4 separate regions of the Homo sapiens genome follow, and regions 2, 3 and 4 are each linked to region 1. Evidence: fine-mapped expression QTL. A gene starts in region 1. Each other region holds a variant in brackets. All regions are shown on one strand. Distances are from middle to middle.

Region 1 (7,732 bases):
TCTGTGGGTGTGTGCTCCATGACATCACAGTTTTGCTGAGCGCGTGCAAAATGCTCCAGACCACAGATTTCTATTCATGTTAGAGCTGGAAGGGACTGAGAAAACCAGCTCCCTTGAGCTGCTATGGGGAAAGTGAGGCTCAGAGGGAAAGGTTTTGCCCAGGGTGTCACAGCAAATTTGTGCCCAAGACACCCTGGGTCCTAGGCTTCCTTACGTCTAACCAGCATCGTCAGTGCTGCCACACTCGGCTGCCCCTCCACTGCCTCCAGAACAAAGGCCAGGCTCGAACGTGTCACCACATGAGCAGGGGTCAGAGAAGGCTGTGCTGAGCTCAGGTCCAGTCCAAGGGAGATGTTGGAGATGGAAGGGGCCAGAACATTTAGCATGGACTGGGGCAGGGAAGGCACATTCCAAGCTTCCAAGCAGGTCCCAGGTGGATAGGAATAACAAGACGGGGCTGGGAAATATTTCTTTCTGCTGTGTCCAGAGCAGGGCTGGAGCTGGGGGTCCAGTTTGAACCCAGGAGGTCAAGGCTCCAGTGAGCCATGATCGCAGTACTGCACTCCAGCCTAGGACACAGGGAGACCCTGACTCAAAAAAAAAAAAAAAAAAGAGGCAGGGTAGGGGGAGCATCCCAGTTGATGCAAGAAGAGATGGCATCAGAGGAATGAAAGGAAACACAAGAACAGACCAGGAGATGGCCTCCGCGAGATGATGGGGGTGGTACATCAGAGCACTTGGAGGAGGCTGGGGAAGAGGCCCTTTAGCAAGATGGAGCCCAGCCATGGAGCCTCTATCCCTGGAGCCAAAAGCCAGCAAGGCTGCCTTAGAGGAGCCACCTTAAGAGCCACTGAGTGAGTCTCCTGGAAAGACAAGAGAGTATGCTTCTGCAGCAGAGCCACAGCACTGTGACTGTCAACAGACACAGGGACAGTCGCAGCTGCCCTGGGGGTGGGCCTGGGCCAGGGCAGGCAGGGCAGGGGCCTCTTTCCAGCTCAACCTCCTATGGAAAGGAGAGCTGAAGGTGGGGAATGAGATGGGGGGTCCATGGTTTATTGACACCTGCCATATCCTTGGCTGGTCCCTGCCACATGGAGCAGACATGCTGACTCACGCACAGTGGTTTCCTGTTGTGCCTCCCGTGGTGTCCGGCTCACCCAGGACCAACTAGGGTGAGGTGAGGGAGACACTTGCCCCCATGCAAAACTTAAGGAGGCGCCAAAAAACTCGGCAATCAAGATGAAAATAGGCCAGGCACAGTGGCTCATGCCTATAATCCCAGCACTTTGGGAGGCTGAGGCAGGAGGATCGCTTGAACCCAGGAGGTCAAGGCTGCAGTGAGCCATGATCGCAGTACTGCACTCCAACCTGGGTGACACAGTGAGACCCTGTCTCAAAAAAAAAAAAAAGCATCTTGAGTAGCTGGGATTACAGGTGGGTGCCACTACACCTGGCTATTTTTTGTATTTTTAGTAGAGATGGAATTTCACCACGTCAGCTAGGCTGGTCTTGAACTCCTGGCCTCAAGTGATCTCCCTTTCTCAGCCTCCGAAAGTGCTGGGATGATAGGCATGAGCCACTGTACCCAGCCCCAAAAACGTTTTTTAAAGAATGGGTCTTGCTCTTTCACCCAGGCTGGAGTGTGGTGCTGTGATCACGACTCACTGCAATCTTGACCTCCTGGGCTCAAGTGATCCTCCCGCCTCAGCCTCTTGAGTAGCTGGGACCTCAGGTATGTGCCACCATGCCTGACTACCTTTTTTCTTTTTTTTTTTTTCTTCTTTTTTTTCTTTTTTTTTTTTCTTTTTTTTTGTAGAGATGGGGTCTCCCTATGTTGCTCAGGCTGGTCTCGAACTCCTGGGCTCCAGCGATCCTCCCACCTCAGCCTCCCAATGTGCTGGGATTAGAAGCATGAGCTGGCAACATCAGAATTTGTAAAGAAAAGATTGCTGGCTGGGCGCGGTAGCTCACGCCTGTAATCCCAGCACTTTGGGAGGCCGAGGTGGGTGGATCACGAAGTCAGGAGATTGAGACCATCCTGGCCAACACGGTGAAACCCTGTCTGTAATAAAAATACAAAAAAAGTTAGCCGGGCACGGTGGCGGGCGCCTGTAGTCCCAGCTACTCGGGAGGCTGAGGCAGGAGAATGGCGTGAACCTGGGAGGCGGAGCTTGCAGTGAGCCGAGATGGCGCCACTGCACTCCAGCCTGGGCGACAGAGCAAGACTCCATCTCAAAAAAAAAAAAAAAAAAGATAGCTGCACCTTGCCATACTGAGGCCTGAGGCAAAAGGAGAAATCAGTAACACTGAGCCTACCTTTACTTAAATTTTTGACATGTTATTCTAAATGGATTTTAGGCAGCATTATTTTTGATTTTTAAAATATATTGCATTAAAACGTGAAAAACATCCACCTCAATGATTGAATTGCCGGCACTCCCTTAAGTTTTGTGCTGAGGGTGCATCACTTGCCTTGCCCTAATGTTGGCCCAGGGCTTACAAATGACTCAAAGGTGAAGCTCCAGAAAAGTGAGAGAGAGCACATAGGTGGAGTTCCAGGGAGAAAGGGCGTGTGCCCTTTCGGCCTGGCTTTTCCCTCATCATGGTGGGAGCTGTGGTTGGTAGTGGTTGAGAGGAACTGACTCTGTTCTTGATCCTAGCAACTTGTGACATGCACGCCAGGAATGTCATGAGAGGAGCTGTAATAAGCTATCCGAAGTGATCGTCCCTTGAACGAGAGCCACTGCAGCCAAATTAGTGTGGATGAAGGGCACAGGGGACGGGCACTTCTCGATCTGGGGGAGGAGGGAGGAAAAAAATGATTACCCATAGGTTTTAGGCTTTAATTGATTTGTATTTTTCCAGGCTGCTAAAGAAGATTGAATCATGGTAGGAAAAGCGCCTAGGGCTTAAAATAAATGAGGAGAAAGGCAAGTCATTTCAGAAATGTCCAGGAAGCAAAACAAACCTCTCCAGTGCAAATGGCAGGCATGGCTGTTGTGTTCTTTGCTCAGGGGGAGGCAGCTTCCTTTTCTTCCCCAGCTATCTTTACAGTTGGGTTTGACAAGCCTACCAAGGTGTACACACTTTGAGGAAGCGGTTTGGAGGGGAAGAGGCAACAGTGCTGGCTTTTACGTTGGGAGGGCATGTCTCTGGGCTGATGGCTGGTAGAAAAGGGCTTTAGCTGGAGCCTGGATGCAGAGTTCATGCCCTGGCTCTGCCCAATCTAACCAGTGGCCCTAGCCAAGATTTCCCCCTTTTCTGGGCCTCAGTTTATCCATCTGTCAAATGAGAGAGTTTGGATTAGCCTCTTCTTCAAGAGGCCTTCTGGTTCTAAGGCTGTATGATCAACAACTGATGAGAAAAGAAGCCCAGAAAGGGGAAGTGACTCACCCAAAGTTACCCAGCCAACCACTCCTCATTGTTCTAATCCTCCAACTTCTCATCTGTAAAATGGGAATGAAGGTGCCTATTTCACAGGATTGTTGGAACGATTAAATGAGATACTACTACTAATAGTAGCCCCATATATTGTGTGCTTACTGCATGCCAATTACTCTCCAATACATTAGCTCCTGAAATCCTTCAGCAGTTCCCTCTTCACAGGGCAGGAAAGTGAGGCACGGAGCAAGCAGAGAGTTTGCCAAGCTCACACAGTAAGAAGCGGAGCCAGAACTTGAAGCTGGGGCTGTCTGCATTGACTGTGCCATTTTCCCTCTCCATAAGGTACAGAGACAACAGAATTTTGCCGAGAGCACAAAGAGTTCAACAAACTCTTACAGCTCCTACGATTAACGGCAACAGACAAGAGCTAGAGATCCCAATTCAGTGTTGCGACTAATAAAATATCAAGCTGCCCCGTACCACTGGGAATTCATACGACTTAAAAAGCTCCGTCTCCAGCGCGAACCTTCCCCTCGCCCCCACCCCGAGACAGCTGTGCAGGCCCCTCCATCCTCCGGACCCCTCCATCTTTCCATCCTCCACCCCAGCTTCCAGTTTCTGACCCAGAGGCCGGGGTGGGGTCCGAGTGGGCCCACCCACACTCATCCCTGTTTACCCTTGCTTGTCCTAGAGCGCTCTTCGCTCCACGGAGCACCCAGAGAAGTTGGAGTGACTCCGTGAGTGTCGGTGCCCCGGAGGGTGGGGAGGCCCGTTCCAGGACTTGGGAGGCGAGGGTGGGTGGGGACGTCGGGCGAGAAGGGGCGGGGCCGCGGGCGTGATTGTTACCGCCGGTGCCATAGCAATCGGGTCACTTGGCGGCTTGGCCAGAGCCGGGGAGCTGGGAGGGGTCTACCGGGGCTCGACTCTAGGAGTTGGGCTGAGGATTTCCACCCGATCCTCGAACCTCCGGCCCATCTCATGGACGCCCCTCCCCCTTCAAACACCCTCCCCCACATTTATTCCCGCGTCTGTTTTAAAGATGGGTAAACTGAGGCACAGGGAGCCGGGCCGGGGAGCACTGACAGAACCAGAAGCAGGTTCTGCCTCCCGTCCCCTCGGAGGGCCGACTTGCCCCTTCTGGGTTTCGTCGGGGGTCTCAGATACGAGGAGGCCCAGCTGGAAGCCACCTGAGGGTGTCCCCCGCTAAGATGCGCAAATGGGAAAAGCGAGGCCGGGGTTGGGGAAAGAACTTGCCCGAGCCGCAGAGCGCGTCAGCCGGGGAGGTCGGGGCGGGGGCGACCCGCGCGACCGAGGATCGGGTATCTGGGCCCGGCGCGGAGCCTGCAGGGCGGGGCCGCGGCGCGTGCTGATGACGCAGTCGGCGCGGCGGCCCTAGCGACGCGGTTACTAGGGAGCGGCGAGCCGAGACGGCTACATGGACGCCACTATCGCCCCGCACCGTATCCCCCCCGAGATGCCCCAGTACGGGGAGGAGAACCACATCTTCGAGTTGATGCAGGTGACCGGACACCCCTGCCCGTCGCGACGCTGGCGGCGGCTCGGGAGCCTCCACTGCGACGTCGGGTGCGCGGCCGGGACCCGCAGCTGGGGCCGAGTCGCGCGCCCACGAAGCAGCCCAACTCGGGATGTACGATTCGTGTGTCGCCGTGACCCCGAGGGGGCCCTCGAGCTGGGGACGCTCCTGGTCCTGCCCGGGTTTGCCTCAGGCGGACCCAGGGGGAGGAAGGGGGCCACTCGAGCCGGGATTTGGTCCTGGCTGTGCCGCCAGCGGGCCTTATGGTCTGGAACCAGTCCTTTCCTTTTCTCGGTTTCCCCACCTGTGAAATGCCAGGTTGCAAGAGGTGGTCTCCCAGGGGCTCTCCCGGCGCTGACAATTACCATCTGTCGAATTTGTGGGGAGCCTCTCGGCCCAGGTTTCTGAGGTGGGCATTGTCCGAGTTCAAGCTGGCATCTCCATCCTCAGAGAGGGCCGCCTCTGGGACAGCAGCATCTCCCACCTTGGTCCCTCCTCCTCAGGGCCAGACGTCCCCGGCAGCTCCGAAGCTCTCATTCTGGCTCCAGGCCTGACTGGGCCCCCAGCTCACCGTGTGACTTTGGGCGAGGCCCCGTCCCCGCCAGGGCCCCAGTTTTCCCTTTTGCACGTGGTGGAGGTCAAGGCTTTCAGGAGCTGGAGGGGAAGAACTCTCAGCCACTCAAAGGTTCTGAGAGGCAAGGGGAAGCTGGAGCTCAGTTTTCAGATCATTTGTCTGCTTCCCAGGGTACACCCCATCCCCAGGGGCATGGCATGGAGGGCATAGTGGTGTCTGTGGTCATTTGAGGTTCTGCCCTGCACACTAGACAGCTGAGCCCAGACGAAGAAACCCGTGTCTGCACCTCCATCAAACACATTTCCCTCGGAAAGTGTTAACTGATAGAGGGAGAGCAAGAGATTCCTAAAACTGCTTGAGTGGCCAATCACAAATCAAATAGCTAGCTGGGTTAGAAGTCAGCAGGTCAGGGCAGGATGGGGGATCATCTGGAGCCCTGTTGTCTGCTCTAGAGAACCTGGTGTGTTTTCCACATTGATTGTTGGAGGAATTGCCCAGGAAAGCTTTTATTGATTTTGAAACAGGGTCTTGCACTGCTGCCCAGGCTGGAGTGCAGTGATACAATCATGGCTTACTGCAGCCTTGAACTCCTGGGCTCAAGCAATCCTTCTGCCTTAGTCCCTCCAGAGTAGCCGAGACTACAGGTGCAGGCCACCATACCTGGCTAATGTTTTTTTTTTAATTTTAGTACAGACGAGGTCTTGCTATGTTGCCCGGACTGGTCTTGAACTCCTGGGCTCAAACAGTCCTTCTGCCTCGGCCTCCCAACAAGAAAGCTTTCAGTCCAGTATTTCCAGTCCTTAGTCATCTGTGGATTCCCTCCATGTTTTTGACCATTTCCATTTTTTATACTTTTGATTTTAAAATAATGTTAGATTCACAGGAAGTTAAAAAATAGTATGGATTTCTGGTCTCCCCTCCCACATTGCCCCCGTGATAACATCTAACATAACTGTAGCACATTGTCAAAACCAGGAAACTGGCATTGGTACAATAGGATTACCTGAACTGTAGGCCTTGTTTGGATTTCCTCCATTTTTACCTGCATTGATGTTTTTGTTGTGCATACAGTTCTGTGCAGTTGTATCACATGTACAGATTTGCATAACCGCTACTGCACCTCCATTTAAACTAATCACTTGTTTAAATCAACTCACCTTTTAAAAAATTAAATAGCCGCTTTTGCCTCATCCTAAGTGATATCCTTGAAATTATTGATTTGATGTACTTATATTTCTAATACACGTTAAATACACAATGATTTAAACATGAAATGTAAAATATTTATGTGTGAACCATCTAAAATCATCTCATTCCATCATCGCACCAGTGACATACAAACATGAATTCACTCCAGCTGTGCTACTGAACAGGCAGAGAAGCTGAGGCCCAGAGAAGGGAAGGGACTTGCTGATGAGATACAGTGGGGCTGGAACCAAGACTTCTCATGGCTCGGTGCTCTTTCCCTGCCCCACACTCCCTTCACTCCAAGAGGGCTACAGCCCCTCCCTCCTTGTCCCTGGGGCTCAAGGATACCCCTTATTGCAGCAGCACAGCTGCTATGAGCTCCTCCTCATTTCTCTGCCTAGGGTTCTGCAACCCCAGAAGCTGCTTTCTCTTGATATGCTTGCCTGATTGGATGAAATGGCCAGAATATCCCAGGACTATTTAGAAATCTGGCTGGTAACATTCTGTTCCATTCTGGAGAGACACAGTTAGTGGTGACGGTCATGTTCCCCAGCAAACATCTGCGCTGGGCATCTGCTATGACTGCCAGGTATTGGGGTGCCAAGGGCTCTAGGCAGACAAGGAGGCCCACAGAACCCATGGCCTGCCGGGGGGATGGTGGCCTGGTGAGTAGGGACAGGGTGAGGCGTGGAACAGGGCGATGCCCGCAGGCAGGTGCAGGAGCATCTGACATATTTACGTAGTGCACATACTCAGGAAGGTATGTTCCCATTGAGATCTGAGACTGAGCAGAAGTTAGCCAGGATGAGGACAAGGCAGAAGCTTCCAAGCTGAGGGAACAGCATCTGCTAAGGCTCTGAGGGGAATGGTGATGCTTGAGAACTTGGAGAAGGCTGGTCTGGGAAGCTCAAAGGGCCCCAGGGGAGAGAGCCCTGGACTGCCTGCTCTGAATCAGGGGCGAGACTCCTCCACTTCTGCCTCCCCATAGGTGCCTCCGCAGCAGCACCACGTGGCCCCCCTCATGCCTCTGCTCATGGGGACCCAAGCAGATG
Region 2 (7,732 bases), 27 kb after region 1:
TTTGCAGTCTCATTACTGATTTCTACTGGTTAGGTGTGTGAGGCCTAAAGAGGTCAAGGCTTTGCCCAGGGTCGCCCAGCTGGCTGTATCGCAGCCGCCAGGAGCAGAGAGCCTGCCCTGGGCAGAGGTGGGAGGTGAGCCCTGATGCCAAGTCCGAGTCTCTGCTCTGCATAAGAAAGGCTGTGCCAGGAGGCCCCCGCCCCCAGCAAGGAACTTTCTGATTGGAATGTATTTCTACTTCCCATGTCCTTTTTCAGAAATGTGGGTGGGTGTAGAGGAGATTTTTAGCCCCTGTTGTGCACTACAAGGAAAGGCACAGGCCAGGCCTCAGCGACTCCCCTGAGAAGAGTTGCTTCCTCCCCAGTCCTTTGCAGAGAAGGGAGAGTGCGGAGTACCCTGGGGAAGCAGCTTCACCTCTCCCAGGCTCAGCTTCCTCCTCTATGAAAAGGGCCAACACTCTGAATCAATCACAGTGGTCAGGAGTGGGGTATGCGGATTGGCTTAGACCAGTCAGGGCCCTCCTCTGGATCTGAGGATAGAGTTGAGCACACCCAGACCATACAGGCAGAAGGGGGCAAGAGGGCGACTCCTCTTTGGGATTCCTCTTTGGGGGCCCGTGTTACTGTAAGTGGAGTGTAGATGGCACAGAGTTGTTACAAAAAGCAAAGAATGGAATGCTTGGCCCAGTGCCTGGCACATAGCACGTGCTCAACAAATGCTAGCCGTCATGATTGCTGCTTGTTGAATGCATCAAGGAATTTGAAGTTTCATTATGGTCGACAGGGCTTCCTATATCCTTGATACCATTTGGTCTGCTGGTCAATATTCAACAACCAGCACTGGGGGCAGGGTGGGGAGTCCTTATTGTAGCCTTTATCATTTCTGTGGTGTAGACACTCCCACCGTGGCCAATTTTGTTACCAACATGAGGTCACTGACTGTGGACTTGGGAAGAGATGGACACACTCGCCTCTGCTGAGTCTTGGAGCCAATCCCCTCCCACCCGCCACTGTCTGGAGTCCAGAGTCAGTAGGACACTGTCCCTTTCCTTGAAGAGCTTTACAACTTCCTGGGGACACAGCCACGTGGGCAGTCCATTAGCGTGTGCGGTGGTTAGTGCAGTGACAGAGTTCTCCATCCAGGATGATGGAGCACGGGAAGTAGCACCAGCCTGGCCTGGGAGGATCCGGCAGGGCTTCCTGCAGGCTGGCACTTGGGGCTGAGGCTCTGAGGGAGCCCTGGAGTTATTCAGGTGGAGGTGGGCGAGGGCATGTTGGGGCTTGGGCACAGGATAAGGTGAGTACATGTGTGAGGGAGGCCCTCAAAGATGCTGGGGGGAGAAGAGAGTTCAAGGAAAGGGTGCAGCGGGTGGAGGAAGGGCGGGGCCCGATGGTGGTCGGTGCTTTCCAGAGGCCAGGGCGTTGGTGAAGGGTGTGTGCTGGTCTGTGTCCTGAGCTGCAGGAAGCAGGTTTGGGCCATCATTCTGTGTGTCCTTTTTCCTTCAGACAGTTCCCAGCGCGCTGCTCGTCCAGCTGATTCAGGAACGCCTGGCTGAAGAGGATTGCATCAAGCAGGTAAGACTCCAGTGAGCTAGGGGTTTCAGTGCCAAGATAAAGGGGAGGGTGAAGGGCGTGTGTTCATCTCCAAGACCAGAGATGACCAGAGGCATAAGAGAAGGTAAGGCAGGCAAACGGGAACTCCGTGAAGGTCAGTCTACAGACATGGATTTTGCTTTTGTCAAAGGAAAAGGAACAGTGTGGAATTCGTTGTATCGGTCAGGGTTCCCGTAGGAAATAGCTGGCCCATCCAGAGGGGTCACAGGAAAGCATTTAATGACAGGACAATCGCAGAAGCATGGGAGGGTAAGGCAACCGACAAGTGATGGTGAGGCGCCAGGGACTGGCATCGGCAGGAGGCAGAATTAGGGGTACCCCAGACTCTCGCCTCCTATCCTTTGATCTCCTGCCAGACCCAGTGAAGTCAAAGGGCAGGAGTCCAGGTGAGCAGTCCACTGAGGCCGGCCTCCTGGGGCACAAGGAGGGTGGAGAGGGCAGGGGAGGGCTCAGGAGGACAGCAGCATAGCACCTGTCTACTGGGCACTGATGGGTGCCACAGGAGGGCTTTGCACACCGATTCATGTGTCCTCACAGGAACCCTATTGGGTCATGTCATTACTTTTCTCTTTTTATTTTATTTTATGTATATATGTATGTATGTGTATATATACGTTTGAGACAGGGTCTTGCTCTGTCACCGAGGCTGGACCCCAGTGGCATGATCACAGCTCACTTAGCCTCAACTTCCCAGGCTCAAGTGATCCTCCTGTCTCAGCCTCCTGAGTAGCTGGGACTACAGGCATGCATCACCACACCCAGCTAATTTTTGTACTTTTTGTAGAGATAGAGTTTCACTATGTTGCCCAGGCTGGTTATCAAACTCCTAGGCTCCTATATTTTTTTCTGAATTTAGAATCCTAGGTTAACAGTTTTTTTCTTTCAGCATTTTACAAATGTTTCACTTACAGTTTTTTCTTTTTTTGTAATTTTTAAGGGGCCATGCTAATATTCTCTGTATTGTTCTAATTTTAGTATATGCGCTTGCCAAAGCTAGCACTCTGTTTACTTTTTTTTTTTTTTTTTTTTTTTTTGAGGCAGAGTCTTGCTCTGTTGCCCAGGCTGGAGTGCAGTGGCGATCACTGCTCACTGCAACCTTGACCTTCTGGGCTCAAGAGATCCTCTCGCCTCAACCTCCCCAGTAGCTGGAACTGCAGGTGTGTGCCACCATGCCCAGCTAATTTTTTGTAGACTGGATCTCCCTCTATTTCTCAGGCTGGTCTCCAACTTCTGGTCTCAAGCAGTCCTCCTGCCTTGGCCTCCCAATGTGTTGAGATTACAGGCATGAGCCGCCACACCCAGCCTCCACTTACTTCTGACCACTGTGGTTTCTATGAAAAATCCACAGTCATTCAAATTCTTTTATAAATAATGCATCATTTTTTTCTCTGACTACTTTCAAGATTTTTTCTTTGTTTTTAGTTTTCTTTTTTCCTTTTCTTTTCTTTTTTTTTTTTTTTGAGGCGGAGTCTCATTCTGTCGCCCAGGTAGGAGTGCAGCGGCATAATCTCGGCTCACTGCAACCTCCACCTCCCAGGTTTGAGCGATTCTCCTGCCTCAGCCTCCTGAGTAGCTGGGATTACAGGCATGCGTCACCATGCCTGGCTTATTTTTGTATTTTTAGTAGAGATAGGGTTTCCCCCTTGTTGGCCAGGCTGATCTTGAACTCCTGACCTCGGGTGATCCACCCGCCTTGGCCTCCCAAAGTGCTGGGATTACAGGTGTGAGCTACCGTGCCCGGCCTATTTTTAGGTTTCACTAGTATAATTATGACATGTCTGGGATGAATTTCTTTGGGCTTATTCTTTTTGGTGTTTGCTGAGCTCCTGAATTTATAGGTTTGTATTTTCCTCCAAACTTGCAAAGTTTTTAGCCTTTATTTCTTCACGTAACTTCCTGCACCCTACTCTCTCTCCTCTCCTTCTGCAACTCCAATAACACAAAGCATTCACCCTTTTGCTGTTGTCCCACAGGTCCCTGAGGCTCCAGTCTTTTTTTTTCTTATCATTTTTTCTTTCTTTCTTTTTTTTTTTTTTTTTTTTTTTTTTGAGACCTAATCTCACTCTGTTGCCCAGGCCAGAGTGCAGTGGCATGATCTCGGCTCACTGCAACCTCTGCCTCCCAAGTTCAAGCAATTCACATGCCTCAGCCTCCCCATTAGCTGGAGTTACAGGCATACACCACCGTGCCTAATTTTTTTTTTTTTTTGAGATGGAGTCTTGCTCTGTCACCCAGGCTGGAGTGCAGTGGTGCGATCTCAGCTCACTGCAACCTCCGCTTCCCAGGTTCAAGCTATTCTCCTGCCTCATCCTCCCGAGTAGCTGGGATTACAGGCACGTGCCACCACACCCGGCTAATTTTTTGTATTTTTTAGTAGAGACGAGGTTTCACTGTGTTAGCCAGGATGGTCTCAATCTCCTGACCTCATGATCCACCCGCCTCGACCTTCCAAAGTGCCGGGATTACTAGCATGAGCCACCGCGCCCGGCCCAATTTTTGTATTTTTAATAGAGTCAGGGTTTCACCATGTTGGCCAGGCTGGACTGGAATTCCTGACTTCAAGTAATCCTCCCGCCTTGGCCTCCCAAAGTGCTGAGATTACAGGCGTGAGCCACCATGCCTGGCCCCTATTGTTTTTACTCTCTATCAGTCACATGTGATAATTTGTATTGAACTATTGTCAGGGTCACTGAATCTTCCCTTGTTTTTTTATTCCACTATTGAGCTTGTCCTGTGAGTTTTTTATCGCATCGGTTCTTTCTGCCTTCTGTGTCTTTGCTGAGACTGTATCTTTC[T/C]GTGTTTTTACCAGTTGGAAGTTTCTTGTAATAGCCGCTTTCGAGTTTTCATCCGCTAATTCCAGTATCTGAGTTACGTGGTGGTGACATCTGTATCTGCTCTCATGTGAGTAGAGATGTTCCTGGTTCTCCCTGCGCTAAGTAATTTTGTATCCTGGACATTTTAAATATTGTTATGAGGCTCTGGGTCTTGTTTAAATCCTATGGCAAATGTCATTATTTTTGTCTTAGCAGATGACTGATTCAGTTGGGTTCAGGTTGCATGTTCCAGCCAGGCTTCTCAGAGTGTGGTTTCCATGTCAGTCCTGTGTTCAGCAACTTTGCAGTGCCGTGCAGTGACCGACCATGCAGCTCTGTGCTATGTGCACATCACCCAGGGGCACCTGGGGACTTGGCAGTGAGCTGGCCACAGTTCATGTCTCAGTGTCTCTGAAATGCCGTTTAGGGTCAGGCCCACACGTGCACAGCTTGGGGGTGAGCCTTTGATCTCATCAAACACTGTGTTTAGTTACTTCCCTGAGCTCCCCTCTCTGTCATCTCCTGATAACTCCTAGTTCCCTGGTGCTCCTCTTTTTGGTATTTTGGCCAGAAAACTGAGGTTATTTATCCTGCTCTGCCACTCACTTCCTGGGACTGCACCCATGACCAGGGTCAAGTGGTGGGAGGACAGAGAAAGGAAGGATTGACAGGGCTTTGCCCTGTTCTCTTGGGACTGGAGAAGGGTCCCCTCTTTCAGTGTTTCAGGCACCTGCAGGCCCCTTTGACACAGCAGTGCCACCACAGTCACCGCAGGACTGCCTGGAGGCAGGAGTGTGAGAAAACAGAGAAAAGAAAAACCCCACAGAGGTATCTCCCCTCCTAGCTCGCTCTTCTCCCATCTGCTTCCCACTTTCAGCCTTCAGGTTGCCTTAAGGCCAGGCCAGGAGATACTGGTTTGGTGGTATTTTGGATTCTAGTCTTTTCCCCCAACTTGCCTACTACTGGGTAACTTTCTGAGTCCTCGAATAGCTGCCCTGTGTGTTTTATGAATGTATTACAGCTACTTTCAGTGGGGTTGACAAGGCGGGTGGCGCACATTTCCTGTCTCCCAGAATCAGAACTTGTGTCTTTTTTTTTTTTTTTTTTAAATGCACCTACAGATTCTCTCTCTTTCTCCATCTGTCTCTCACTTGAAAATGTATTAGGGCCAGGCTGGGCATGGTGGCTCACACCTGTAATCCCAGCACTTTGGGAGGCCAAGGCAGGAGGATTGCTTGAGTCCAGGAGTTCTAGACTAGCCTGGCCAACATGGCAAAACCCCGTCTCTACTAAAAATACAAAAAATTGGCCGGGCGTGGTGGCCCACGCCTGTAATCCCAGTATTTTGGGAAGGCGAGGCGGGCGGATCACCTGAGGTCAGGATTTCGAGACCAGCCTGGCCAACATGGCAAAACCCTGTCTTTACTAAAAATATAAAAATTAGCTGGGCATGGTGGTGGGTGCCTGTAATCCCAGCTACTTGGGAGGCTGAGGCAGGGACAATCACTTGAACCCAGTAGGCAGAGGTTGCAGTGAGCCAACATCACGCCACTGCACTCCAGCCTGGGTGACAGAGTGAGACCCTGTCTCAAAAAAAAAAAAAAAAGTATTAGGGTTGAATGCAGTGGCTCACGCCTGTAATCCCAGCACTTTGGGAGGCTGAGGCAGGAGGCTTCTATCGCAACGACTCAGCTCTGATGTAATACAAAGGCAGCCGTACACATGCCATTGCACTCCAGCCTGGGCTACAGAGCAAGACTCTGTCTCAAAAAAAAAAAAAAAAATTAGCTGGGCATGGTGGTGGGTGCCTGTAATCCCAGCTACTCGGTAGGCTGAGGCAGGGGAATGGCTTGAACCCAGGAGGTGGAAGTTGCAGTGAGCCGACATCACGCCACTGCACTCCAGCCTGGGTGACAGAGTGAGACCCTGTCTCAAAAAAAAAAAAAAAAATGTACTAGGGTTGAATGCAGTGGCTAATGCCTGTAATCCCAGCACTTTGGGAGGCTGAGGCAGGAAGATCACTTAAGTCCAGGAGTTCAAGACCAGCCTGGCCAACATGGTGAAACCCTGTCTCTACTAAACATACAAAAAATTTGCTGGGCATGGTGGCGTGCACCTGTAATCGCAGCTACTCGGGAGGCTGAGGCAGGAGAATCGCTTGAACCTGGAGGAGGAGGTTGCAGTGAGCCGACACGCACCACGGCACTCCAGCCTGAGTGACAGAGCAAGACCCTGTCTCAAAAATATATTGATTGGGAAGCCCCAAACCTGAAGCAGGAATCTTTCCAGCATGCTGGCGAGGGAGTAGCAGTTCTCACGAGCTTGTTCTGCATGGCCCTCAGCCATGGGATCTCCATCACAAACACCCTGCCGGCCGGGCTGCAACACTGGCTCTGAACAGTGTGTTTACATCTGAATTGTCTCAAATTGTTCACTGTGAGTGGATGGTCTTCTGCCCAGGTGTGGGCAGATATCCAGAGCCCAGAGGCTATTCTAAATCGGGGGTGGACACATGTTTTCTGAAAAGGATGGAGAGACACTCGTTGAGGCTTTGCAGGCTATATGGCTTCTGTCACAACGACTCAGCTCTGATGTAATACAAAGGCAGCCGTACACAACACAGACACAAAAGGGCACGGCTGTGCTCTAGAAAGACTTTTATCTTAGAAGCAGGCAGCAGGCCAGATTTGGCCCGCGGGCTGTAGCTTGCCAACCCCTGTTCTAAGTAACACTTTCACATTGATCATGAAAACATTTCTGCCCTTTCTCTTGAGCTCTCAATAAAAAGCAAACTTCCGGCTGGGCGTAGTGGCTCACACCTGTAATCCCAGCACTTTGGGAGGCTGAGACAGGCGGATCATGAGATCCAAAGATTGAGACCATCCTGGCTAACATGGTGAAACCTCGTCTCTACTAAAAATACAAAAAATTAGCCGGGCGTGGTGGCACGCGCCTGTAGTCCCAGCTACTCAGGAGGCTGAGGTAGGAGAATCGCTTGAACCCAAGAGGCAGAGGTTGCAGTGAGCCGAGATCACGCCACTGCACTCCAGCCTGGGCGACAGAGTGAGACTCCGTGTCAAAAAAAAAAAAAAAAAAAAGCAAACAGGAGTGTTAGAAGAAAGGCCAGCTTCCCCATAGACTTTCATTTTAACTAAGTTCCCTCCCAGTCACCTGACTTCCAAGCTCGGCGACTTGATTCTGCATCTCCAGTTGAGTGCCCCCTGCAGGCCCTGCATGGTTTTCACTACCAGGACCCTTCCCCACACCCGAGACCTTCCTCCTCAGCACCCCCCACTTCTAGCAAGA
Region 3 (7,732 bases), 35 kb after region 1:
TTTTTTTTTTTTTTTTTTTTTTTTTTGAAACAGGGTGTTGCTCTGTTGCCCAGGCCGGAGTGCAATGGCACGGTCATGGCTCGCTGCAGCCCCAACCTCCTGGGCTCAAGCAATCCTCCCACCTCCGCTTCCTGAGTAGCTGGGACTACAGGCACATGCCACCATGCCCATCTGTTTTTCATTTTTATTGTTTGTAGAGTCGTGGTCTCCCAATGTTGCCCAGGCTGATCTTAAACTGGGCTGAAACGATCCTCCTGCTCAGCTTCCTGAGTAGCTGGGATCACAGGCGCGCACCACCATGCCCGGCTAATTTTTGTATTTTTTGTAGAGACAAGGTCTCACCATGTTGCCCAGGCTGGTCTCAAACTCCTGTGCTTAAGTGATCCACATGTCTTGGCCTCCCGAAGTGCTGGGGTTATAGGCATGAGCCACCATGCCTGGCTCTCTTTGATCTTTAAAGCTAAGCTGTTTTCTCTTTTTCATCATGATAGCTACTCATCAAATTTGGTCAAATATAGGGGGGTGGTACTCCTTTGGCTTAATTGTACCTTAGTTGCCCAGGACTGGACCCCCTCAGCAGGGGTGGGGGCTGTCTGTGAAAGCACAGCTGGATATGGTCTTGCCCATCAGGCAGTGTTTCAAATTCAATATGCCAAGAGTTCCTGGAACCAGGACTGTCAGTGTGATGAGCATTCGTTCTAAGCACACAGGAAGGGAGAAACTATGTAGTTCATATCCTCAGGAATAACACGCACCTAAAAAATGTGGCATACTCATGAGCCACCATCACTGCCCCTGCCAAACGAAAGGCCCGGTGGAGATGGCGCCACGGTCTGTCTTAGTCAGCAAAGGCAGCAGGACTTCCCCACGCCTGGTGGTAGAAGACCTGCCTTTCCCTTTTCAGATTTCCTTTGAAGATGCTATGATCCCCAAACCACCTGTGACCCAGGAACTTGAGCAGGAACTGCTGTGTCTGGGCCGCTCTTCCCCCGGCCCGCTCTCCTGGTCAAGAGTGTTTGCTTCAACCAGCTGCCTTAGTGCAGCAGAAGCCGGGAGCTGGCCTGCTGACCACTGGAAGGCAGAAGTCTCTGGGATCCAGGCAGGCAGGAGAGCAGGCAGGCCCAGAGCCTCTGCTCCAGCTCTCTATCTCGGCCCGGGAGAAGCCAGAGACCTGAATGGAGCATGCGTCTGAGCCTGGCATCAGGCACTACGCCCAGCAGCTTCTCCAGCTTCACGGGACCCTACATGGCCAGTGTTACTATTATTGTGCCCATGTTGTAGCTGCAGGGCCTGAGGCACGCCCAGAGCCACACCGGGGGAAGCGGCAGGGCTGGCCAGGGTAGACCAGGCACATGGTGCACAGGGCCAGCGCTCTGACCCAGGGGCTCCAGGGCTGTGCTATGCAGCCCAGGACAGAAGCTCAAAGGCTGGGCAAAGCCTATCTACTCCCTGTCGTGTTTTGTGCCATTCACAGGCCCCCAACGTGTCCCCATGCCACCTGATATGTTCCTCCACTAGAGTCGTGACCAAAAGCCTTGTCATGGTTTGTTGGCCTACCCGGCTCCCCAGTCAGTGTTTCCTAAAAGTACTCATTCATTCATTCATTCATTCATTCATTCATTCATTCATTCATTCATCTATTCTCTCATGCAACAAATCACTTTGCTAAGCACAGGGACCAAAGCAGTGAACAAGAGAGTTAAACGTCTTGCTCTCAAGGAACAGAAGTTCTAGTCATGGAGAGACAGACAATAAACCAGATAAATAAGCAAAGGAGTCACGTCAGTTAGAGGCAGATCTGAACTTCATAGCTGGAAGAGAGGCTTGGCATGGGGCCAAGGCATCTGTGGGCCCCTCTGCCCCATCCACCCCACACATCCATTGCAGAAGGCCCAGGGTGGGTGTCTGGATACCACTGAGCAACCCTCAAAGTCTCTCTCCTTTCCAACCTCAAAACATTTGAAACAGTACTATTTCGTGTAAGTAATTTTTACAAGTTACAGCATTCCAATGAAAATGTTTCTGGTGGGTAAGCATTCTGGATTCTAGGTGGAAATCTAGAATCCAGAGATGCAGGGCCTCAGGGTGGGCTGCCAGTGATCGTCTGTGTGTCCCACTGGCTATATACACGCCCTTGAAGCCGCACTGCCCTTCTTTCCCCACTCCAGAATCTAACAAGGCTGCACAGTTTTCACACAGGATCCAGCTGCCTGGACAGATTTGTTTCCGTGATTTTTAAAAAATTTCTACCTCACTGAGTGATAGTTTCTGGGGAAAATATGGTGATTCTCTCTGTGTTTGCAGCTGGATATCCCAAACATGCCCTCAGTGATCTAGAATAGTCATTTTTTTTTTTTTTTTTTGAGATGGAGTTTCGTTCTTGCCCAGGCTGGAGTGCAGTGGCGCGATCTCTGCTCACTGCAACCTCCGCCTCCTAGGTTCAGGCGATTCTCCTGCCTCAGCCTCCTGAGTAGCTGGGATTACAGGCACATGCCACCATGCCCGGCTAATTTTTATATTTTTAGTAGAGACCATGTGGGCCAGGCTGGTCTCAAACTCCTGACTTCCAAGTGATCCCCTCGCCTGGGCCTCCCAAAGTGCTGGGATTACAGGCATGAGCCACTGCACCCGGCCTAGAATAGTCTTTCAAATATGCATTTAACTTCTGTGAATTCTTCCTGAGCTTATTTAAAAGCTTGGTCTGCATAACCTCTTTGCATAGTGCACCTGCAGTGTGGACAGAGTACAGGACCATGCATCCCAAGTCACCATCATAAAAATGATGATGAAGTCTATTGTTAGAAATTAAAATCTCAATTATAATTGACATCGTTATTAGTTACATTACACTATATGTGATTACATTGTATTATAAATAATATATTGACTGAGTATTTATAATGTGTGTTATTATTATGATTATTTTGATGATGGTGGTAGCTGTAGTCTACGCGCCTGGTCTGGCATGTTATCTGCTACATGACATTGCAGGTGCACCTTGCACTATGCAAGAGGCTGTAATTACATTCTGGGTGACTCCCCTTGATTGGGAGTGTAGCAT[T/C]GGCAGCAGGACCGTGTGCTGTGGAGTCCTTACAGCAACCTTGCGGAGGTGGCACTGCTGTCTACCCTATTTCACAGATGCAGAATCCAGGCCTTGAAGAGGTTGTGTATCTTGCTGAAGATCCCACAATTAAATCCCAGAACTGAGATGCAAACACAGTGTTGTACTATTGGCCACTGTTCTTGTTTCAAAGGTTGCATCTCAGGAAGGCACAGAGCGTGTTACTCTGGTGAGAGCTTCACTTCCTTAGGCCTCAGTTTTTCCATCTATAAAACCATGGGGTTGGACTTGAGCATGGAAATCCCTTCTAGTCTTGAGCATGGAAATCCCTTCTAGTCTTATAGTTCTGTGATTCTGATCATGTCCACGCTGTTGTTACCTGCAGAGTAAAGAAATATCTCCTTCAATTTGTTTTAAACTTTCTTCTAACCTTTAAGGGGCATCCATTGCCTTTTCATCTCTTCCCGCTGGAGACAGGATTTCAAGAGTAAGAGGTTAGACTTCTAATTATGTGCTTTGGTTGTTCAAAAACAAAACAAACCCTCATCCAAAATAAACAGGCTTTCTTGCTTTTAGGGAGAAAAATGACACATATGCATATTCATTTATATGGTAATTATTATTATTTAGCTACACAGGGACTAGAATTGGTAATTTAGAGCACAGAAAGAATGCAGGGAATAGTGTTCAGGGAAAAATAACGCAATCATAACCCATCAGGATTCTGTAGTTAATGCAGGGGGGTCGTTTCTTTTTCTTTTTTCTTTTTTTTTTTTTTTTTTTGGTCTAATGCAGTCTCTTTGAAGAATTTTTTTTTGAAGTGACCATCAAATGCATTAGAGAAAGAAAAATTAGCACTCTGTATTGGAACGATCAAAAGGAGTTGGCTCTACCTGTTGGATACCCATTAGCCATTGTTAGGGACAATCAAGAGAATGTGCCCGAATCCTCAGACTACCCCTGTAGGGCAAAGAAAAGCCAAGACATAAGACAGTAAGTTCTGGAAACTTGGGGGGAAAGGCTCAGTACCAAAGAGATTCTAAATTTTACCTTGACCATAGTCACCATTTGTGCTCCATTTTATTTAAATTGCTAAGAATCCCTTTCCTTTATTTGGAACCTGATCCATCTCCCCACAGCTACCCTGGTTTCTTCCCAACTCTTTCTTCACATTGCTGCTGGAAGGATGGCTTTTTAAAGAATGAATGAATTTATTTCATTACCATGATATATTCATTCCTATGGTTCCAAAGGCACCAAAGTCCCCCCTCACTCCTGTTCCTTAGCCACCCAGCTTCCTTCCCTGGAGGCAACTGATGTTCACACTTTCTTGAAAGTGCACCCTTCTGAGGATGACTTTAAACATAGAGAAACATTTGTTATTTTAAAATAAATGTGGTTGTGACCCTCCACTGCTTCCAGGAGCCCTGTGTGTCCTGGGCCTGCCTGCGGTTCAGCTTCATCCCTGGACTTCTCTCATCTACCCACTCAGTACCCGCCACCTTTCTCCAGGTCAACCTGCACCCACCCTGCTCAGGCCTTTGTGGGCAGCTGCCAGACCCTAATTGCATTAGGCCATTCTTGCAATGCATAAAGAAATACCTGAGACTGAGTAATTTATAAAGAAATGAGGTTTAATTGGCTCATGGTTCCGCAGGCTATAAGAGAAGCATGGTGCTGGCATCTGCTCTGCTTCTGGGAAGGCCTTAGGAAGTTTACCATCACGGCAGAAGGTGAAGGGGGAGCAGGCACATCATGTGGCCAGAGCAGGAGCAAGAGAGAGACAGTGGGAGGGGGAGGCGCCACACACTTTTAACCAGATCTCTTGAAAACTCACTATTGTGAAGACAGCACCAAACCATGAGGGACCCGCCCCCATGATCCAAACACCTCCCACCAGGCTCCACCTCTAGCAATGGGGATTACATTTTAATGTGAGATTTGGGTGGGGACACATATCCAAACTATATCACTAAGCAACTCTCAGTGATTTCCCACCCCCTTGTGTCCATGCCTATGTAATCCCCTCCCCTTGAGTGGGGGCAGGACCAGCTGAATGTGGCAAAGGTGAGGGGATGTCACTCCTGTGCTACATTATGTTATGTAAGAATGTGCCTTAGCAGACCAGAGAGAGATCCTCCTTGCTGGCATGATGAAGTATGCAGCTATGTTGGAGAAGCCCACATGGCTGGTCTCTAGGAACTGCAGGGGCCTCCAGCCCCTAGCAAGCGAGAAACCGGAGCCCTCAGTCATGTGGCAGCAAGGAAATGGATTCTGTCAACAATCCAGATGAGCTGGGAAGAGGGTTCTCCCTCAGTCAAGCCTCCAGATGGGAACACAGCCTGGTCAACACCTTGACTGCAGCCTTTGAGACTGAGCAGAGGACCCAGCTGAGCTGTGCTCAGACTCCTTGAAAACCATGTGATAATAACTGTATTGTCTACAGTCACTAAGATTGTTATGCAGCAGTGGAAAAGGAATACACAGTGCTCTTAACCCCACCCCTTAGCTAGAAAACTGCTCTCATTCCTCAGCCTCAGCTTCAAGTCACTTCTTCAGGGAGGCCTCCCCTGGCCTTGCCCAGCCCCAGATGAGGCCGACCTGCCTGTTACACATGCTCACAGCATTCTGCTCTCCAACTCTGCACTGTCATAGTTAGGAGTAGGAATGCAAGATCTTTCATGTGATACCTGGCAGAGACTCCATGCTGGGTAAATATTTATAGAATGAATGAATGAATGAATGAATGAATGAACCAGTCAATAATGAATCAATCAATGCCATTTGGATAATTCCCCAGTTCTGTACCACCGTGGCAGTGAAATCTTATCCCAACATGCACATGGCCCAAGGAGGCAAAGGTGTTTAAAATCCAGCAGCCCTATCCAGTCACATCCGGATGCCCTAATAATGGTTTCAACACTAGGAACATACTTGTCTTCAGGCTTCTTTGGGGAGATTGTTTTGGCCAGTGTGCTAGCTTTGTTTTCTGTGAATTTTGGATCTGTTTAGCGACTTCTTCCTTGTATTCTAAAATTATTCCCATCATTAGTGCTTTCAAGTTTCCCATTTGGCCTTGGACTCCTACACCTTGAGAAAGTTCAAGCACTGCACCCTAAGGGTGGAGGTCCCCCCTTGGGACCCCGGGTTCAGGTTTTTGAGAACCAGTCTTCCAATCTGATCTCCTATGCCAGGAGATTTTCTGTCTCCTCCTCCTCTATTCCTCTAATCAACTGTAACAAGAATCAAGCGCCAGGGTGCTTGATTTTAAAGCATTAAATAAATGTGTAACATAAAAGTGATCACACCTGGTGGATGAATCCCAGTTTGTCTTATCAATGTCTTTTAAAAAGCCATCTACAGAAATCATCCCACAAAAACCTCTTATGAAAAGGGAAACTGAGGCCCAGATGGAGGAAGGAATTTGGTTGACGTCCCACAGGCCAGGTCAGTGTGGCATTTTACAGGCCACCACGCAGAGGCTCCTGGCTACCTGACTGGCAGGTCAGGCTTCAGCTGGACTCGGCAGGTTTGTGCCAGGCCTTCTGACAAAGGCATTTTTATGTCACCAGCACCAGACATTTGGAATATCACAGACTGGAAAATATCTGGCAAAGAAAAAAAGAAATGTTTTCATGTATGGATGCTACCCCCACGCCGCTGCAGGGGGCAAAGGAAAGACTTGTGCCCAATTATGACGGCTCGTCATGTGCGGAGAATTTTATTATTCATCAAAAGGCAGAGGCCTTCACGCACCGGGAATGTGATTCTTATGGGCTCCACACGTGGCTCGGGTTCACATCTGCTGACCTGAGCTGACCCTTGAATATCTGGGCTGGCAGACAGCAGCGAGGGACACTCAGACAGGGACTGGTGTGGACAGCCTGCTCGGGCTGCAGTGCTTTTCTATGTAGAGCGCCCTGTAATTCACAGGCAGGCAGCATGGCCTTAGGTGCTGCGGCGCATGCTCTGAAGTAACAGCTGTCTCACTGTCTGATTAAAATGTGACGATCCAAGCATAGCACTTAGCACTGTGCCCAGCCCGGAGGTCCACTTAGAGTTGATGCTTTTTACATGCTGGATGACTTGGGTGAAGGCCATTTGAGGATCCCTTATGAGTAGAAGTCTGCTACTTCTTCATACCTGGGCTTTGTGTTAGAAAACAGTCCTGGACACTTTCTGGGTGGGTTTATGATCTACCAGCAACATCATGGTGTACTTTTTTTTTGGCGCGATCTCGGCTCACTGCAACCTCCGCCTCCTGGGTTCAAGTGATTCTCCCACCTCAGCCTCCCAAGTAGCTGGGATTGCAGGCGTGTGCCACCACAACTGACTAATTTTTGTATTTTTAGTAGAGACAGGATTTCACCATGTTAGCCAGGCTGGTCTCGATCTCCTGACTTCAGGTGATCCACCTGCCTCAGCCTCCCAGATTCCTGGGATTACAGGCATGAGCCACTGTGCCTGGCCTGTGGTGCACTTTTGAAACCACCACTCAAGTGAGTTCTATTATATCCCCATACCTGGATGAATGAGAGTGAGCAGTCTTTTCAGTGTAGTGCCTGAGGAAAAAAATCAGTGAAATTTCCGAGCCAGCTGCAGACTGCCTTCCTCATGCCTGTTCACTTGCCTTGTGTGTGTGTGTGTGTGTGTGTGTGTGTGTGTGTGTGT
Region 4 (7,732 bases), 53 kb after region 1:
CCAAGAGGGGGCTGATGGGTGAGGAATTTCAATCCTGTAACAAGTTAGCCGCAGAGTAGAAACCGGAATCATCGTCCAGGGTTTTTTTTTTTAAGAAAAATGGGGTGTTCCTGCAGATATATGGGGCAGAAAATGAAAACAAAAGTGGGGTTTTGTTTTCACCCTGGTCTCAGGAATCTCTCAGAAACTGTCTTTAGGAAATTATCCAAAATGTGGAAAGCGCTAGATGCACAAAGATGTTCATCGAGGTATTATCTATGATAGTGAACACTGCCCGCAGTTGAAATGTTCATTTGTGGACATAGTTAAGTGGCTGTGTACATTCTCTTGGTGGGACATTGCACAGCCGTTGATAATGTGGACAATGAGGAGCTGTGCAGATATGAAGAGATGCTTGTGGTCGCTATTGTGTGGTAGAAAAAAATCAAGATGTAGGCCAGGCACAGTTGCTCACGCCTGTAATCCCAGCACTTTGGGAGGCCAAGGTGGGCAGATCACCTGAGGTCAAGAGTTTGAGACCAGCCTGGCTAACATGGTGAAACTCTGTTTCTACTAAAAATACAAAAAATTAGCCGGGTGTGGTGGCACATGCTTATAATCCCAGCTACTTGGGAGGCTGAGGCAGGAGAATTGCTTGAACCCAGGAGGCGGAGGTTGCAGTGTGCCGAGATTGTGCCATTGCACTCCAGATTGGGCAACGAGAGTGAAACTCCATCTCAAAAAAAAAAAAAAATCAAGATGTAAAATATATATGTTATGATTATAATCACCAAGATATGATTCGGAAGGGAATATAATAATATATTACAAAGTAGTTTTTAAAGAAGGGTGAGGTAGCTATCAGAAACATTTTTTTTGTCTTAAAAGTTCTAGTCTTTCTATAAAGCTATTATATTCCTTTTAAAATAATTCCAAAAAATCTAAAACTCAAAACAGATGAGCACCTCTCTGAATCTTCTGTCTAGGGCTGGATTCTGGATGGCATCCCTGAGACGCGTGAGCAGGCTCTGAGGATCCAGACCCTGGGGATCACACCCAGACACGTCAGTGAGTAGCTCCCAAGGGTCCCCCACCTGCCAGAGCTGCAGCCCCAAGGGGTGGCCAGTGAGCGCCCCGCTCATGCTGCCTGCTCCTGACCTCAGCCCAGGCACCGTCTGAGACCCAGCAAGGAAGAGGACAGCACAACTGAATTTTTCACAGAGCTAAATATATTCAGGGCTGGTTCTTAAGAAAAGTGGGGTTTCGTTTTCAGCCTGGCGATTCCTTGTCTCAGGAAGGAAATGCATATTCTATGCATAGCATAGAATGCTGTGCAAGCATTTAGTGCGCACAGAGATGCCCATTGTGGCGTTATCTGTGACGAGGGAAATTGTTAACAGGCAGAACTTTCCGTCATGGGCCGTGCTCTGTCCCAACGTTACACTCTTTGTGTTTGGGTGCGAGAAGACCTTTCTCTTAGGAATTCACGGGGATGGGAGATGATTGTTGTTTTAATGTCATTATACAGAAAAGCAAAAAACGTAAAGCAAGTATTGGTCTGTGATATTCAAATGTGTGGCACCCGCTGCCCGACATGCCTGGTTTTGCTCCTTTTCTTCTCTGCCCAGTTGTGCTGAGTGCTCCAGACACGGTCCTGATCGAGAGAAACTTGGGGAAGAGAATCGACCCTCAAACTGGAGGTATGGCTACGGCCACCCCCACCCAGCCCCATGGGGTTTCAGAGTCCATGGTGATGACAGCCCGTCTACCATTTCCTGACCTCGCATTCTGCTCTGGGCACCCACAGAGGGACACGAGGAAGGCTGCCACAGGCTGGGCTCTGAGCTGGAAGACACTGGCAAGGGTACATTCTGGTAGATGAGGAAATGGAGGCCTGTTTAGGCTAAAGGAGGAGACTTTCTTGTGGCAGAACCAGAATAGAGTGTGGGGGGTCATGCCAGGCACCTGGGCTTGGGGCCCACACAGGAGCCAGGGGACATGTCTGCCTCTCCCTGGGACAAATTATGTGCCCCCTTGACACCCCTTATTCTTTGGTATTTATACAGGAGAGAGAGGCATGAGCATTACCTGGGAGAATTGGCAGGTGTTGCAGGGGACGGGGCCCTTGAACTGGGCCTTGAAGACCAGGCAGTTCAGCAAGGGGCTGGCGGGAGGGTGGGGGGAGACGGGACTGCCCTTGATCTTCCGGGCCTCACGCTGTGGTGGCAGATAGAGCTGGGTTTGTGGATCCCTAACTCTGTCCCTTTCTGGCTGTAGACATGGGATACCTGAGACTCAGTTTTCTTATCTGTACTTGAGGATGAAAATACCAACCTAATGGGTGATGGGATGGCTGTGAAGATGAAATGGGAGTCTGCAGGTGCCTATCAGAGTGGCTGGCACAGAGTAAGTGCTCAGAAGTTCACGGCAGCCCTTGCCCTGGGTCCTGTTCTTGTATTGTAACAAGAATAATAGTTAAGAGCAGGCTCAGAGTAGCTGGAAGTGCTGGTGTTGAGCAACGGTGTCCTGCCGTGGTCAGCCACACCCCAGGAATGTGTAGGGCCTGGCCTCCAGGACAGCAAGCACCCCAGCCAGGCACAGCAGCGCCCACAGGGCCCCTGCATGGCCATTTCTAACTGTGCACCTCTCTCCTTGTAGAGATTTATCACACCACCTTTGACTGGCCACCCGAATCTGAAATCCAGAACCGTCTCATGGTGCCAGAGGACATCTCAGAGCTGGAGACGGCTCAGAAACTGCTGGAGTATCATAGGAACATCGTCAGGGTCATTCCCTCCTACCCCAAAATCCTCAAAGTCATCAGTGCTGACCAGCCATGTGTGGACGTCTTCTACCAGGGTAAACACAAGCAGGCAGCCCCACCCTGGACAGACGGCCAAGGGCGGGGCTCGCTGTGCCTTCTACCACTTTGTCCCTTATTCTGGTAGTGGCCAGTGTCTGGGACATGCCTGGGACCCTGGAAGTCAAGACATAGATGACCCGGGTTCCCTGCCCAGAAATGCATGTGTGCAGAGCCCCTGGGGGTACCCCACTTGGAGACCCTGGGCTAATGTCCCACACTCAGATGTGGTCACATCTCTGGCCCACAGCAGATTTGGTGGTCGTGGGGTCGGGAGGAGGAGAGGCAAGGGATGGGGTGGGAGGGACATGGTAGCAAGAAGTTTGAGCCTGACCTTGAGGGAGAGGAAAGAAAAAATATATAAAGATTAAGACAAAAACAAAACCACCACCACCACACACAACACAATAAAACACACACACACAGCACAGGTGGTATGCTTCATTTAGGATGGAGATACATGGCCCCGCGCCTGGCACTGCGTTGCTGTCCACAGCAATGGCCAATGTTCACAGCAGCTCGGGAGCCACTGCGGGCAGCCTGTGCGAGGTGCGGGGATGGCTGAGCTGAGCAACCTGTTCAAATCTCAGCCCCGACGCAGCCCAGCTGTGCAGCCTCTGGCACTTCTCCTAACTCCTCGGAGCCCTAGTTTTGGCATCGCTAAAATAGGAACAAAACTTGTGCCCTCCTCCCAGGCGTAGGTGAGGATTAAATGGGATTCTCCAAATCACGTGTCCACAGCCACAAGCCCAGTTCTGGCACAGAGAAAAGCCTCAATAAACATCAGTCGTCATAGCTCCTATCATTGTTCAACACCCTGCCCAAAAAGGCAAGGGCAAGGTAGAATAATTCTATCCCCAAACAGCTGTATTATCCTTTTCAAAAGTCTTGCTGAGCTTCAGTCATCTCAAAATGCAGTATCTCAAAATCCAGTCGTCTCAAAATTACCCTTCCAC[A/G]CAGTGTTGGGTAAATGAAGCGTTTACGATGGGAACATCACAGATATTTAAGACACTTGACAGTTTACAAAGTCCTTTTTTTCATATATTCTCTCAAAACTCTCCAAGAAAAGTCCTGTTTTGCCGGGGAAGTGGTTTTGAGCTCCCTCAAGCCCTTCCCTGCTGACTTTCCCAGCACCTTCTCCTGCTGGTAGACTCGGTGCTTAAACCTCATTGCTACACTGAGCTCGGAGATGCGGTGTTTGCCGGCGTGGATTGAACAGCCTCGCCCTCTGAAGGGAGCAATCAGCCAGCGGGTGGGTTAGTAGAAAATGTCGCTACTTAAAGAAGAAATGCCAGGCTTATGATGGCTTATAATTTTCCAGTGATTTTGCATCTCGGAAGGGTCATTAGTAACAAACACTGCACTCTTAAGATAAACAACCACAACATTTATCTTATGCCATGATTCTGAATTTACACATTAATTACTTCCAAATTACTTAATTAAATTTAAAAGTTCATATGATCGTTCATAAAGAATTCATGCCTGGAATTGTAAATAAAAATGTGAGTGTCTGAATATTAATTATTATTAATTAATAATGCAGAGAGATAAATTGAAAATTGGAATGCAGAATTCTCTCTGTGTTGTTTTTCTAATCTCTCTGCAGTGCATCCAGCAACCACACATTTTTAAAAAGAATAATTAGATGTTGAGACTGTCTGGGGGATCATTACTTCTAATTAACTTAGTTATTTACTGTAAATTAAGCATCATTTGTAAGCAGGCTGCTTTGCCTGTAGTATTTGTGCTTTTCAGATGCACGGGATTATGGAAGGTCTGAGAATAAAGAGAGCCTCGCCTGAGTAGCTTCCTTTGGGCTTCTCTCAGTGGAGGAATGGTACCCATGGCAGGTGGTTTGGGAGAGTTGCCCCAGCTCTGCCAAGTCTCAGCCTAATTGGCTCATCTGTAAAATGGGACATGAATAACGCAACCCTCATGGGATTGTTGGGCCAAAGAAAAGAGATGGTGCCTATAGAGTATTTGTCGTAGCAATTAGTACATGCCATTGATGATGCTGATCACAACCTGGAAAAAAGTCCATTCTAACTCATCTCTGCCTTCTAAAAAGAGGGGACTGTGCATCTCTAATGACCCTTCCAATTTAAAAGTCCAGCAAAGATTTGAGAGTTCAGGATTTTCACAATGAACATATCCCAGCGGTTCACAATCGGGGGCAGTTTTGCCCCCACCGCAACCCCGGGGATATTTGGCAATGTCTGTAAAGGTTTTTTGGTTGTCATACCTTGCGGTTGTGCTGCAGGCACCTAGTGGGTAGAGGCCAGGGATGCTTCTCAACATCCTACAGTGCCCAGAATAGCCCCGCAACAAAGAATCTTCTGGCCCCAGATGTCAGTAGTGCTGAGGATGAGGAACCTGCCTGGTTCCTGGGTGGCATGTTCCTGAAGGAGGCACGATGGCCTGGCCCCTCACCCAGCACGGCACCCACCGCAAGGCACATTGGTAAAGGCAGACTGGCAGGAAGGTGTAACGGGGCCACCCCTGGCTGAGTTTGCACAGGACAGTCTGGGGCCTTGGCAGGAGGGGGAAGGTCTCCCTGGGGAAGGATGCCCTGTTTTGAACGCTGGGGTGGGGGCTGGCACAGGTCCGTGCCTCATCTGTGGGCATCTCTCCTGCCTCAGGTGCCCGAAATGCTGCCTTTACAGCCTCATTAGCCTTTTCTCACAGCTCCCTGTTTCTGAGCTCCAGCGGGAGGTGACCTGGTTTGATGTTCAGTAGCTTTGCCCTGTGGCTTCTTGGCATCCGGTGCCCCCCATGGTGCAGGTGGCCTCATTGTTGGAGACACTCACCCCATCTCCTCACTTCTTTGTTCACCAAATGCCAGGGGCACACCACAGGCCAGGGCCATGCAGCTACATCTGGCCACTCCTGTGACCTCTTTGATCACTACCTCTTTGGAGAGTCGCAACAAAGTTGGTGTCACCAGAGTGCAGCTGCACAAACTACTCTCCAATTCGAGTCCTTTAGAAGTCCCTGGGCACTGGGCCCCCATGTGGCTGGATGCGTTTATCAAAGCCTGTGTCTGACATTCAGGTGCACCTAGCAGAAAGCCAGCGTGCACTTCTAGGAGACCAGCCTAGTTCCGGGGCTTCCGGTTGGGAGGCTCAGCCCGATTCAGTAGGAAAAGCCACCAGCCCTATAGAGAGTGCTATCATGTCCTGGGACCAGTCTCCCAACTGCAACACAGCCAGCCCTAGTTCAGCCTGGAAGGAAATGCAGACACCTGCACGTGTTTAGACGCCTGTGTTGAGAGGAATCCAGGGCGGCGCTCCAGGGTGGCTTCTGTGGACTTCACTCCTCGCTCCCTGCCTTGGTGCCCAGGCCTGCCACGTAATTCTTTTCCCTGCCTCTTCGCCAGATGCACAGAGGGCTTCCATGGTGCTGTGAAAGAGAAAAAGAGTTACTGCCGTTAAAAGAGTCAAAGCAGAGGGGCTGCAAGCGGGTTTCCTGTTCTCTAGGACCTGGGTTTATTATCCTCATATCCTCTCTTTCCAGCTCTGACCTATGTCCAAAGCAACCATCGTACTAATGCCCCGTTCACCCCGAGGGTGCTGCTGCTCGGGCCTGTGGGCAGTGGGAAAAGTCTGCAGGCCGCCCTCCTGGCCCAGAAATACAGGCTTGTCAATGGTGAGTGCCCCAGGTGCTGGGCTGCCCAGCTTCGAGAGCCTTTCCCTGCCTCCTGCCCCTCCTCCCCAGCTCTCATTTTATGGGGGGTGGTGTTGGGGGGGAAGGGTCAGTATCACTTCTCTTTCTGGCTCTTTGTTCTTAACCATTTTCTGTTAGTCCATCTTTGCAGGAATTTTCTTCCTCCCGAGGAATATTGCCATAAAAACATTAACCACTAAAAACATGTCCACAGCCCAAAGAGACAGAACATTTTTCAGTCATCGTTTTTTATATCCTTTGGAGCGGGGGGTTTGTCTGTGCTGTACACCAGGGGTGGCTCCCATCTCACCCCTGCCATCTCCCCTGAAGCCTTGGCTCCTGCGTAATAGGAATGTGCTGTTTATTTATTTTCTCCAGTCTCGTTTGGTGCCCCCAACCCAGGTCAGTGTGTTTACAGGCAGACAATTTCTGAACCAGAGGAAGACTTCTCACTCCGCACAGTTTCAATAAATATTTTACCAGGAAGAGAGAAAATATTGAAATCAGCTCTCCAGGTCTTTCCCGGGGTGGTCCCAGGCGGTCTTGGATGCCAGCTTGTGTTCAGGAGGATAAAGGGATGGGAATCAGGAAGAAACTGTAGCAGAGACACACTGCCAGGTTGAAGGGAGTTAAAAGCACTGCCCCTACGCACACCATGCTCCACAAACCTAAGTAGCCTCTACTGTATTTACTAAGGAAACGAGACCTGCACCCCCAAATATATGCATATGCATACAACCCCCCCAAATTATACAGGCATACCATATGAATATAGAGAGGGAATACAAACAAATATATGGACACACACAAATATACCTACAAATATATGTACATTTTTGTACATTTGTATGTATATTTGTATATACATACACATATATGTATATATTTGTATATACATACACATATATGTATATATTTGTATATACATACACATATATGTATATATTTGTATATACATACACATATATGTATATATTTGTATATACATACACATATATGTATATATTTGTATATACATACACATATATGTATATATTTGTATATACATACACATATATGTATATATTTGTATATACATACACATATATGTATATATTTGTATATACATACACATATATGTATATATTTGTATATACATACACATATATGTATATATTTGTATATACATACACATATATGTATATATTTGTATATACATACACATATATGTATATATTTGTATATACA

What was found. PIP is the estimated chance that this variant, and not a neighbour inherited with it, causes the effect. A credible set is the group of variants that fine-mapping cannot tell apart.
Region 2: its variant is the best candidate, but not a certain one, in a credible set for the expression of AK8 in nucleus accumbens (GTEx, PIP 0.67).
Region 3: its variant is the best candidate, but not a certain one, in a credible set for the expression of AK8 in nasal epithelium (TOPMed, PIP 0.53).
Region 4: its variant is the best candidate, but not a certain one, in a credible set for the expression of AK8 in cerebellum (GTEx, PIP 0.51).

What each region holds. Positions count from the first base shown.
Region 1 is chr9:132,875,343-132,883,074 of GRCh38, reverse strand. AK8 (adenylate kinase 8) reads left to right here and starts at 4,791. Exons shown (of 13, transcript NM_152572.3): 1 at 4,791-4,903. The coding sequence starts at 4,820. SPACA9 (sperm acrosome associated 9) reads right to left here and starts at 4,177. Exons shown (of 4, transcript NM_001316897.2): 1 at 4,061-4,177.
Region 2 is chr9:132,848,699-132,856,430 of GRCh38, reverse strand. AK8 (adenylate kinase 8) reads left to right here. Exons shown (of 13, transcript NM_152572.3): 5 at 1,506-1,574. It overlaps LOC124902335 (U6 spliceosomal RNA), which reads right to left and starts at 2,613; the gene lies at 2,506-2,613. RefSeq lists enhancers at 1-167, 168-669 and a silencer at 1,726-1,917. The variant T/C (reference allele first, on the strand shown) is at 4,409.
Region 3 is chr9:132,840,410-132,848,141 of GRCh38, reverse strand. All of the region lies in intron 5 of AK8 (adenylate kinase 8), which reads left to right. Among named protein-coding and RNA genes, the nearest start is that of AK8, 34 kb to the left of the region's middle. The variant T/C (reference allele first, on the strand shown) is at 3,062.
Region 4 is chr9:132,821,960-132,829,691 of GRCh38, reverse strand. It overlaps AK8 (adenylate kinase 8), which reads left to right. Exons shown (of 13, transcript NM_152572.3): 6 at 966-1,047; 7 at 1,608-1,679; 8 at 2,638-2,838; 9 at 6,356-6,487. Among named protein-coding and RNA genes, the nearest start is that of AK8, 52 kb to the left of the region's middle. The variant A/G (reference allele first, on the strand shown) is at 3,796.